2 separate regions of the Homo sapiens genome follow, and region 1 is linked to region 2. Evidence: fine-mapped expression QTL. A gene starts in region 2. The other region holds a variant in brackets. All regions are shown on one strand. Distances are between the middles of the regions.

Evidence for each region. PIP is the estimated chance that this variant, and not a neighbour inherited with it, causes the effect. A credible set is the group of variants that fine-mapping cannot tell apart.
Region 1: its variant is the best candidate, but not a certain one, in a credible set for the expression of ALKBH8 in thyroid (GTEx, PIP 0.54).

Annotation. Positions count from the first base shown.
Region 1 is chr11:107,521,575-107,525,977 of GRCh38, reverse strand. ALKBH8 (alkB homolog 8, tRNA methyltransferase) reads left to right here. Exons shown (of 12, transcript NM_138775.3): 9 at 386-537; 10 at 3,423-3,679. Among named protein-coding and RNA genes, the nearest start is that of ALKBH8, 42 kb to the left of the region's middle. The variant G/A (reference allele first, on the strand shown) is at 2,157.
Region 2 is chr11:107,563,695-107,568,097 of GRCh38, reverse strand. ALKBH8 (alkB homolog 8, tRNA methyltransferase) reads left to right here and starts at 2,363. Exons shown (of 12, transcript NM_138775.3): 1 at 2,363-2,497. RefSeq lists enhancers at 63-142, 2,071-2,130, 1,977-2,493, 2,201-2,690, 2,494-3,012.

The DNA of each region.
Region 1 (4,403 bases), 42 kb after region 2:
AGTAATCTTTGTTCTTTAATTGGAGTTTTTAATACTTTTACGTTTAATATATTACTGATAATGAATTTAAATTTACCATCTATTTGTTTCCTCTTGGCATCATCTGTTCTTTTTTGTTTTTTTTAGAATTGGTGTTAATTAAATATTTATTTTATTTTCCCATGGAATAATTTGTTGTACATTCTTTTAATATTATTGTCATGAAGATAATTTCCTTAAATACCTTTATTTCTTTGTTTTTCCACAATGTCTAACAATTCAGGGAATCCAATAGATATTTGTAATAAATTCTTCTAGATTTTCTCTATTCACTTAACATTTTTAAAGGCCTGAAATATTTTTATTAATACAATGTTAAGTAAATTTTTTTGACTATTGTTTTTAGAATCACGTGCAGAAAATTTGATACTGTTCAAGCATCTGAGAGTCTTAAAAGTGGAATTATCACCAGTGATGTTGGAGACTTAACTTTAAGCAAGAGGGGACTACGAACATCATTTACATTTAGGAAAGTGAGGCAAACACCTTGTAACTGTAGTAAGTATATACTCTTATCTCGTCTGTAAAATGGAGTCAGTTTAATATAAAAGTCCTTTAAGGTCCTGTCAACACCTAGGAGAGCTTTTTCTGAATCTCTCTAATGGCATTTCCTGTATTTTGCCTTGTATTGCACTTTCATGCACTTTTCTTAACGACCCTCATTAGAGTTTACATTCTTTGAAGGCAAGGGTCTGCATCTTCTCATCTTTATTTTTTCCAAACTTAGTACTTGAGTTGGGTGCCCAATAAATGTTTTACTTATTGAAGTAACAGTTAAGAGTGCTACAATTGAAGGGCAATAAAATATTACTTGTTTAAAAACGGGTATTGTTGGGAATGGTTTGTCAAGTTTCTAAATTATATCTTATTAATCCAACAGGGAAGTTGGAGATGACAAATTGTTCTATAGTACATAACTCTAGGGAGATAAGCGACAGTTTATGTTTTAGTCAATTTGAAAACTCAGAAGGGAATAAAAACTGCTCAAAAACTTGTCAAGAGGATGCTATTTTGAATCGTCTGTACAAGTACATCATGTTCTGGATTTCTTTGACTCAATTAACAGACACCTCTTTCATTTTGTAAATAATATTTTGTAATGATAGTAATAATAAAATCCTTTTTATATCTTGGGGGTTTTAATTATGGGTGGTATCTACCAACAGCTTTTGGATTTAGTCATAATCTTGAAAACATTTAATTAAAAACTCTTACTATATCTACAAAATGTTATGCTTTTAGAAAACTTGAAATTTCTATATTTTATATCCTGATGTTACTGAAGCTTAAAAGAGCTTTTTATTTTACTAAAAGTGTCCTTGAAGCCTTAAAATATCAAATTTTAAAAGTTAAATTTAAAATGTTTATTATTTGATGAATATTGAACATTGCAGATAGTGAGTTACATGGTATAGAAAAATAAAGCATGGCTCCTGTTCTTAAGGAACTTAAAGTGTAGTTGGAGAGACAAGCTAGTTTTCTTATGCAAATGTTTATCATGGGCATTTATTAAATGTAAGAAGCTGTTATTGGGGATTCAGTTTACAGATTTTTTTTTAAGATGAATAATAATTGTGGCTGGCACAGTGGCTCATGCCTGTAATCCCAGCACTTTGGGAGGCTGAGGCAAGAGAATTGCTTGAGGCCAGGAGTTCAAAATCAGCTTGGACAACATAGGAAGACCCCCTGTCTGCAAAAAAATAAAATCAAAATTTAGACAGGCATGGTGGTGTGTGCCTGTAGTCCTAGTTACTAGGAAAGCTGAGGCGGGAGGATTGTGTGAGCCTAGGAGTTTGAGGCTGCAGTGAGCTATGATCGCGCCACTTGCACTGTGGCCTGGGTGACAGAGCAAGACCCTGTCTCAAAACGAAAAAACAGCAACAGAAAACCCCCCAAATTATAAATGTTTATCATGTACAACATGATGTTTTAAAATACATATATATTGTGGAATGGCTCAATTGAGCTAATTAACATGTATTATTACCTCACATACTTATACTTTTTTGTGATGAGAACACTTAAAAATTTATTCTCGGCTGGGTGCGGTGGCTCACACCTGTAATCCCAGCACTTTGGGAGGCCAAGGTGGGCAGATTATCTGAGGTCAGGAGTTC[G/A]AGACCAGCCTGGCCAACATGGTGAAACCTGTCTCTACCAAAAATACAAAAATTGGCCAGGCATGGTGGCACACGCCTGTAATCCCAGCTACTCGGGAGGCTGAGGCAGGAGAATCACTTGAACCCAGGAGGCGGAGGTTGCAGTGAGCCGATATCATGCCACTGCACTCTAGCCTGGCCAACAGAGTGAGACTCTGTCTCAAAAAAAAAAAAAAAAAAGAATTTATTCTCATAGTGATTTTCAAGAATACAATATATTATTATTAACTATAGTCACATGTTTTACACTAGATCCCTGGGACTTATTCTATCTCACTGAAATTTTGTATCCTTTCATTAGCATCTCCCCGGCTCCCACCCCAACTGCTCCAGCCCCTGGTAACCACCATTCTACTACTCTCTATTCTGTGAGATCAGCTTTTTTTTAGATTCCATATATGAGTGAGATTGTATAGTATTTGCCTTCTCTGTCTGGCTTATTTCACTTAACATAATATCCTCTAAGTTTATCCATGTTGTAAATGGCAAGATTTCCTTCTGTTTGTGGCTGAATAGTATTCTGTTGTGTATATGTACCATATTTTCTTTTTCCATTCATTCACTGATAGGCACTTTGATTCCATGTCTTGGCTGTTGTGAATAGTGTTGCAGTAAACATGTGAGTGCAGATGTCTTTCTGACGTACTAATTTCATTTTCTTTGGATATATACCCCATACTGGGATTACTGGTTTATAAGATAGTACTTATTTTTAATTTTTTTTTTTTTTTTGAGCAAGGCAGAGAAGGGTTTTATTGAGTGACAGAACAGCTCTTGATACGAGAGGGGATTGAACCTGAAGTGGGTTCTGTGTGAGAGGGGGCCCGAAGGCAGGTAGTCCCCTGTTTCTAAGTTTTTGAAGAACCTCTGTACTGTTTTTCATAATGACCATTCTAATTTACATTCCCACCAACAGTGTGCAAGAGCTCCCTTCTCTTCTTATCCACACCAACACTAGGTATTTTTTTGTCTTTTTTTAAAGACCGTCTTGCTCTGTCACCTGTGCTGGAGTGCAATAGCACGATCATAGCTCACTGCAGCCTTGGCCCCCCAGACTCAAGCAGTCCTCAGTAGACTTATTAGGGAAGAACTTTTTCTTTTAACGGATAAATCAGAGTCTGTCTACCCACCAAATTTGCATTGATTTTTTTTTTTCATTTAAGAAAACTTGATACCTTATGAGTTATTCTGATAAAAAGGAAAGGTGTGTATTGCTTTTTCATTAAGGTTACCCGTTGGTCTGTGATAGCCAGAGGAAAGAGACTCCCCCCTCATTTCCAGAGAGTGATAAAGAAGCCTCACGGCTGGAGCAAGAGTACGTCCATCAGGTTTATGAAGAGATTGCTGGGCACTTCAGCAGCACAAGACATACCCCTTGGCCGCACATTGTGGAGTTTTTGAAGGCTTTGCCAAGTGGTTCAATAGTGGCTGATATTGGATGTGGTAATGGAAAGTATCTTGGCATCAATAAGGAGTTATATATGGCAAGTAATGTTGCTTTTGACTTTCTTTTTGCTTAATTTGCAGTGGTTATCATCATCTTTCTTCCTCATGATATAATCCTGTTTTTTTAGATCATTGCCAGAAAGTTATAACCAACAGATTGAAAATTAATGATTTTTTTTATTCTTTCTTATTCCTCTAGGAATTTATGGGCACACCATCATTATATAATTTTTTTTCTCCCTTTAGATTTTGCTTTCTACCATATTATTTTATCAGTAAAACTATCTTATAGTTATAAAACTCTTTACAGATTAGAAAGGATTTTTATAGAAATCATTTTTTGGCTTGGATCCCCCTAAGTATGAAGAAGATAAAGCTGATATTTTCATCCATCTTTTGTAAATGAAGAAATTGGGGCTCACAGTGATCATATTAATTTCCTGATGTCATATAATTAGGGGACATAACTGGAACTTGAACCTATATCTTCTACTCCAAACTTTATTCATAGTAGAAAAAAATTTTCTATTTATTGGTATCTTACTGTTGAGGAAAGGAAGTCTCAAACAGATTAAAAACTTGACCAAGGTTACAGTGCTAGACCCAGAATTTGAACCCATTTCTGTCTGATTCCAGAATGTCTGTTTTCAGTTACTATTTTTTTCTATGAGCCATTTTTTTTCTGCTGTGCTAAGAAGTAGGATATTCTTGTTTTAGTGTATTGTTGTAAGTAATCATTTTTTAACATTGCTCTGTGAGGAC
Region 2 (4,403 bases):
CCAACCTGTAACCAATAACAGCTGTTTCTGCACCTCACTTCTGATTTCTGTACATCATTTCCTTTTTTTTTTTTTGTCTACAAATCCTCCACCACATGGCTGTGCTGGAGTCTCTCCAAATCTGCTGTGATTCTGGGGGCTGCCCGATTTACGAATCAAAAGTTCATTGCTCAATTAAACTCCTTTAAATTTAATTTGGCTAAAGTTTTTCTTTTAATAGAAGCCAGGGCTGAAGATAAAGATTAGGGAATGATTCACAAATCTCTTTATAACTCTGGGGAGGGCAGACAGGAAGAGACTAGAATAACAGAAAAGAGTCAAACTCAAAATCTGAGGGATTGCCTATATTTAATTACGGACAGAGTGAGAGAAACTAGTGGAAAATTCTGAAAGTAAGTGATCAGATCGTATAAAGAGAATTAAAAGAGAGGTGCAGAAAAAAAGTTTTAAAAGCTTCAGCACCTTAAAGCAGGACAAATACTGAGATGAAGTAATTGAATTTGATCAGTAAGAGATAAGAGGATATTTTACACTGTTATCCAGTTTGGTAGACACCGGCCACTTGTGGCTACTTAAGTTTAATTGAAACTAAAATTTAAACATTCAAAATTCATTTCCTTAGTCATACTAGCCACATTTGAAATGCTCATAAGCCACACGTTAACTAGTGTCTATTATGTTGGACAGCTCAAACTATAAAATATTTCCATCATTGCAGAAAGCTCTATGGGGATGTGTTTTTGAAAGCATCCAGTAGTGCAGAAGCAGAATTGCAATGGGGAGATTTCCTGTGTGTCCTCTTATACTCATGTAGCTTGCAATGTCTGGTGGATTTGACCTCTCCAGCTTGCACTTGCCTCCTCATTTTTACTATTAAGTTTTGGTCTCACCCTTTCTTTCCTAGACTATTGCAATGCTTGCCTATCTGCCTCTTCTGTTCTTTCATGTTTGTAACCTATTCTCCACACAAATCATTCCGCCACTCAACAGCACTCTTTTTTCACTGCCACTTTTCCTGGTCAGCCAGCTATTTTATTGTTAGTCCACTGTGGTGCACTGCAGATAGGGGCCATTGTATCAACAACATGGGAAGGTGATTCCTCTTCCCCTACACCTTTCCCTCCCTGCACTCACATAGCTCATAAACCAATGCAGGTAGAAGGATTATGGTACATTTATATAACAAATAACAGAGCAGGAACAACTGCTAATCATCACCCTCTCCTTTGTCTTTTACTTATGATCTGTTACCAGCTCTTTTTTCTTTCCCTCTGCCACTACTGGGCTTGTTAATATTTCGTTACTTTTCACTTCATCAGTCATCTTCTAGTCTCTCCTCCCACTTGCCACAAGAAGCTCTGGTCATATCATTTCATTTCTCTAACCTTCCTCCCTGCAACTCCCACTCTGCAGGCCTACAGAATTCTGTCTTGCTTCCTTCACCATTCTTCCACACATCTTTCTATTACTCTGTGGTACTCACCATTCCCCTGGCACATTCATGCATATTCACTTCCTTCCCTCCCGCCCATGCAATGCCATCTTTCAGACCCCAGGATCCTCTCCCATATCTCTGTGAACCCTGAATATCTGAGACAGGTCTCAGACAATTTAGGAAATTTATTTTGCCAAAGTTAAGGACGCCCGCCCGTGACACAGCCTCAGGAGGTCCTGATGATATGTGTCCAGGGTGGTCGGGGCACAGCTTGGTTTTATACATTTTAGGGAGACATGAGGCATCAATCAATATATGTAAGATGAACATTGGTTCCGTCCAGAAAGGAGGGACAAATTGAAGCAGAGGCGGGCCAACTCAAAGTGAGGAGGGGGCTTCCAGGTCGCACGTATTACAGCTGAGAGACAAATGGTTGCATTCTTTTGAGTTTCTGATGAGCCTTTCCAAAGGAGGCAATCAGATATGCATTTATCTCAGTGAGCAGAGGGATGACTCAGAGGGATGACTTTGAATAGAATGGGAGGCAGGTTTGCCCAAGCAGTTCCTAGCTTGACTTTTCCCTTTAGCTTAGTGATTTTGTGGCACCAAGATTTATTTTCCTTTCTCACCTCTAATAAGATTCAGGAGGAAATATGCACGAAGAATAGAAGGTGCCAGGGGACATTGCTGAAAGACCAAAGGGCCCAAACCTGTTTGACCTTGTCCATTTGGAGAGCAACAGATAAAAATATAGCTGCACTACCAATTATTACTACTCCCCCCAAAAAGACAACTGAATTTTCAGTGTAACAGACAGCACTTTACAAAGACACTTGGTCGAAAAAGGGTCACTCCCGGGCTCTGGGAGGCGAAGAGGACTGTGGGAGCGCTGTTCGTTGTCCCGCGGGCTCATGGGAAATGTAGTGCAGTTTTCTCCAACATGGCCGCGCCCAGGGGAGATGGCGTGCAAGTATCCGCTGCGGTGTTCTGGTGCTAGAGTGGAGAGGCTGGCAAAGAAGAAGGCACACGCATGGTGAGAATCCGGCCTGAGCCGAAGCGGAGGTGTGTGGCACTTCTTACTGGCGGGCATACGGGCAGCAAATCACCGCTTCCTCTTTTCAGCCTCTTCCGGTCTTCTCTATCCGCCTTGCCAGCTAGGGCTGAGAACCTAGGGAAAGGGGATGGATCCCAGAGGCGCCCTTGGTGCAGTGTGGGCAGTAGGGTGTCTGCGTTGGGTGGTTCTCTCAGTGTTTAGGGTGCATGTGTTTGTGTTTGGTTCGGGCGCTCACGTGGTGCCTGTGTCAATCTTCTGTTTTCTTTGGGGTTGGAGAGGACGGTTGCAACATGGGGCGTGTTAGTGTGGCGCTTCTGGGGCTTTTCTGACCGGTGACAATCGGTCTGATTGCATCGATGCAAAGGCAGTGCTGATGATCTGATCCCTTGCGCAGCTGAGTCTTCCTGTGCTCTTATTTGAGCAATCCCTGCGACTCCTGGACCTCTGGTAGCGTCAGCCTGTTATTTTGATAGATTTCATTGAATATTTATTGTCAGTTGTATGTCAGGCACCAAGTCTGTGCCCTTAAATAGATGACAGTTTTCTGGCCGAAGCCCAACACAAACAGGCAATTATAATACCATGTGAGAACTCTAGAGATAGAGGTCCATGCTAGGTGTTAATGAAAACGTTGAAGAAGGCCACCAAACTCAGAATTCTGGAGGAGGGGAGGTTTAGGAGGTAAGACAGCAAAGTCGATTTAGGTTTATTCGACAAATGGTTATTGAGTGGCTGCTAGGTGCTAAATCCTGTTTAAGTGCTGGGTGCTACAGGGTGAACAATAGAGACAAAATCTCTACTTCATGGAGTGAGTGTTCTTTATTCAGTTATGGGGAAAGACAGAATAAACAAATTAATGAGAGTGTAAGAAAATATGTAGTAAGTGTTATTCAAAGAGTTAAAACGGGGTGCCGTGACAAGTGATGGGGTGAATTTTTTTCTAAAAATTTTAAATCTTTATTTTCTTTTTAAATAGATGATGCAGTTTAAATAGCTACTAACTTCAAAAGTCATGAAAGAAGAAAGCTCCCTTTCATTCCTTTACTCATCGATCCATTTTCCTTCCCTGGAGGCAACCCATATCACCAATTTCTTGTGTGTCCTAAAGATTTATATGTAAACTCTGTATACCAGTGCCGTACGTTAAAATTGGGCCTCGTTTGATAGGAAGTTAGATTCTTTCTAATCTTTGCTATTAATTATTAGGTTGTGCAAAAGTAATCATGGTTTTTGCATTTTTTTAAACATATAAGTATAGGAACATTTGTCTATACTGCTTGTTTCATAATAGGCTCTCTATTATTCAAGGAGGGCATGATGTACATACTACTATTACCACGTAGGGCAATATCTAGTAGGATATATTGGCTTTAAACTCACTAACAAGCAAGTAGCAGAGCATGCATAATCTCCAAACTTTCATTATCCCACAGAGAGTACGCTTAGGCTGGAGCTGGCTGAACCGGACTCAGCATGGCTAGTATCATAGTTAATAGTGACTTCACTCCAGTAATGTCACAGGGAGCATCCAAGTATCTGTGCATTAGTGGAAACTCTGGCCAGGGAAGTGGCTTTGTCAGAAGGGGGCACCTCCAGACCTCAGCAGCTGGTATCAGCCTATCCTTGTTGAGATGACTCAGATATGTTGGGCCAGCACATTGCCTAGCCACTGGAATGGTGGAAAACTGAGCCTCAAAGGCCATTTAGTGTCTTTCTTCACGTGCAATAATATTGCATGACTGAGGGAGAGAAAAAGGAAAGGGATGACAAAAATGTGGTTATGAGGCTCCACCTGCTGGTGCTGGACTCTTAGTGGCAGACATTTTAAAAAGATATATTTAGCATCGTTTCTTTCTCATTCCTTCTTTGCAGTGTTTGCTCATGTGAAATATTAAAAATTCTGTAGTGCAGTCA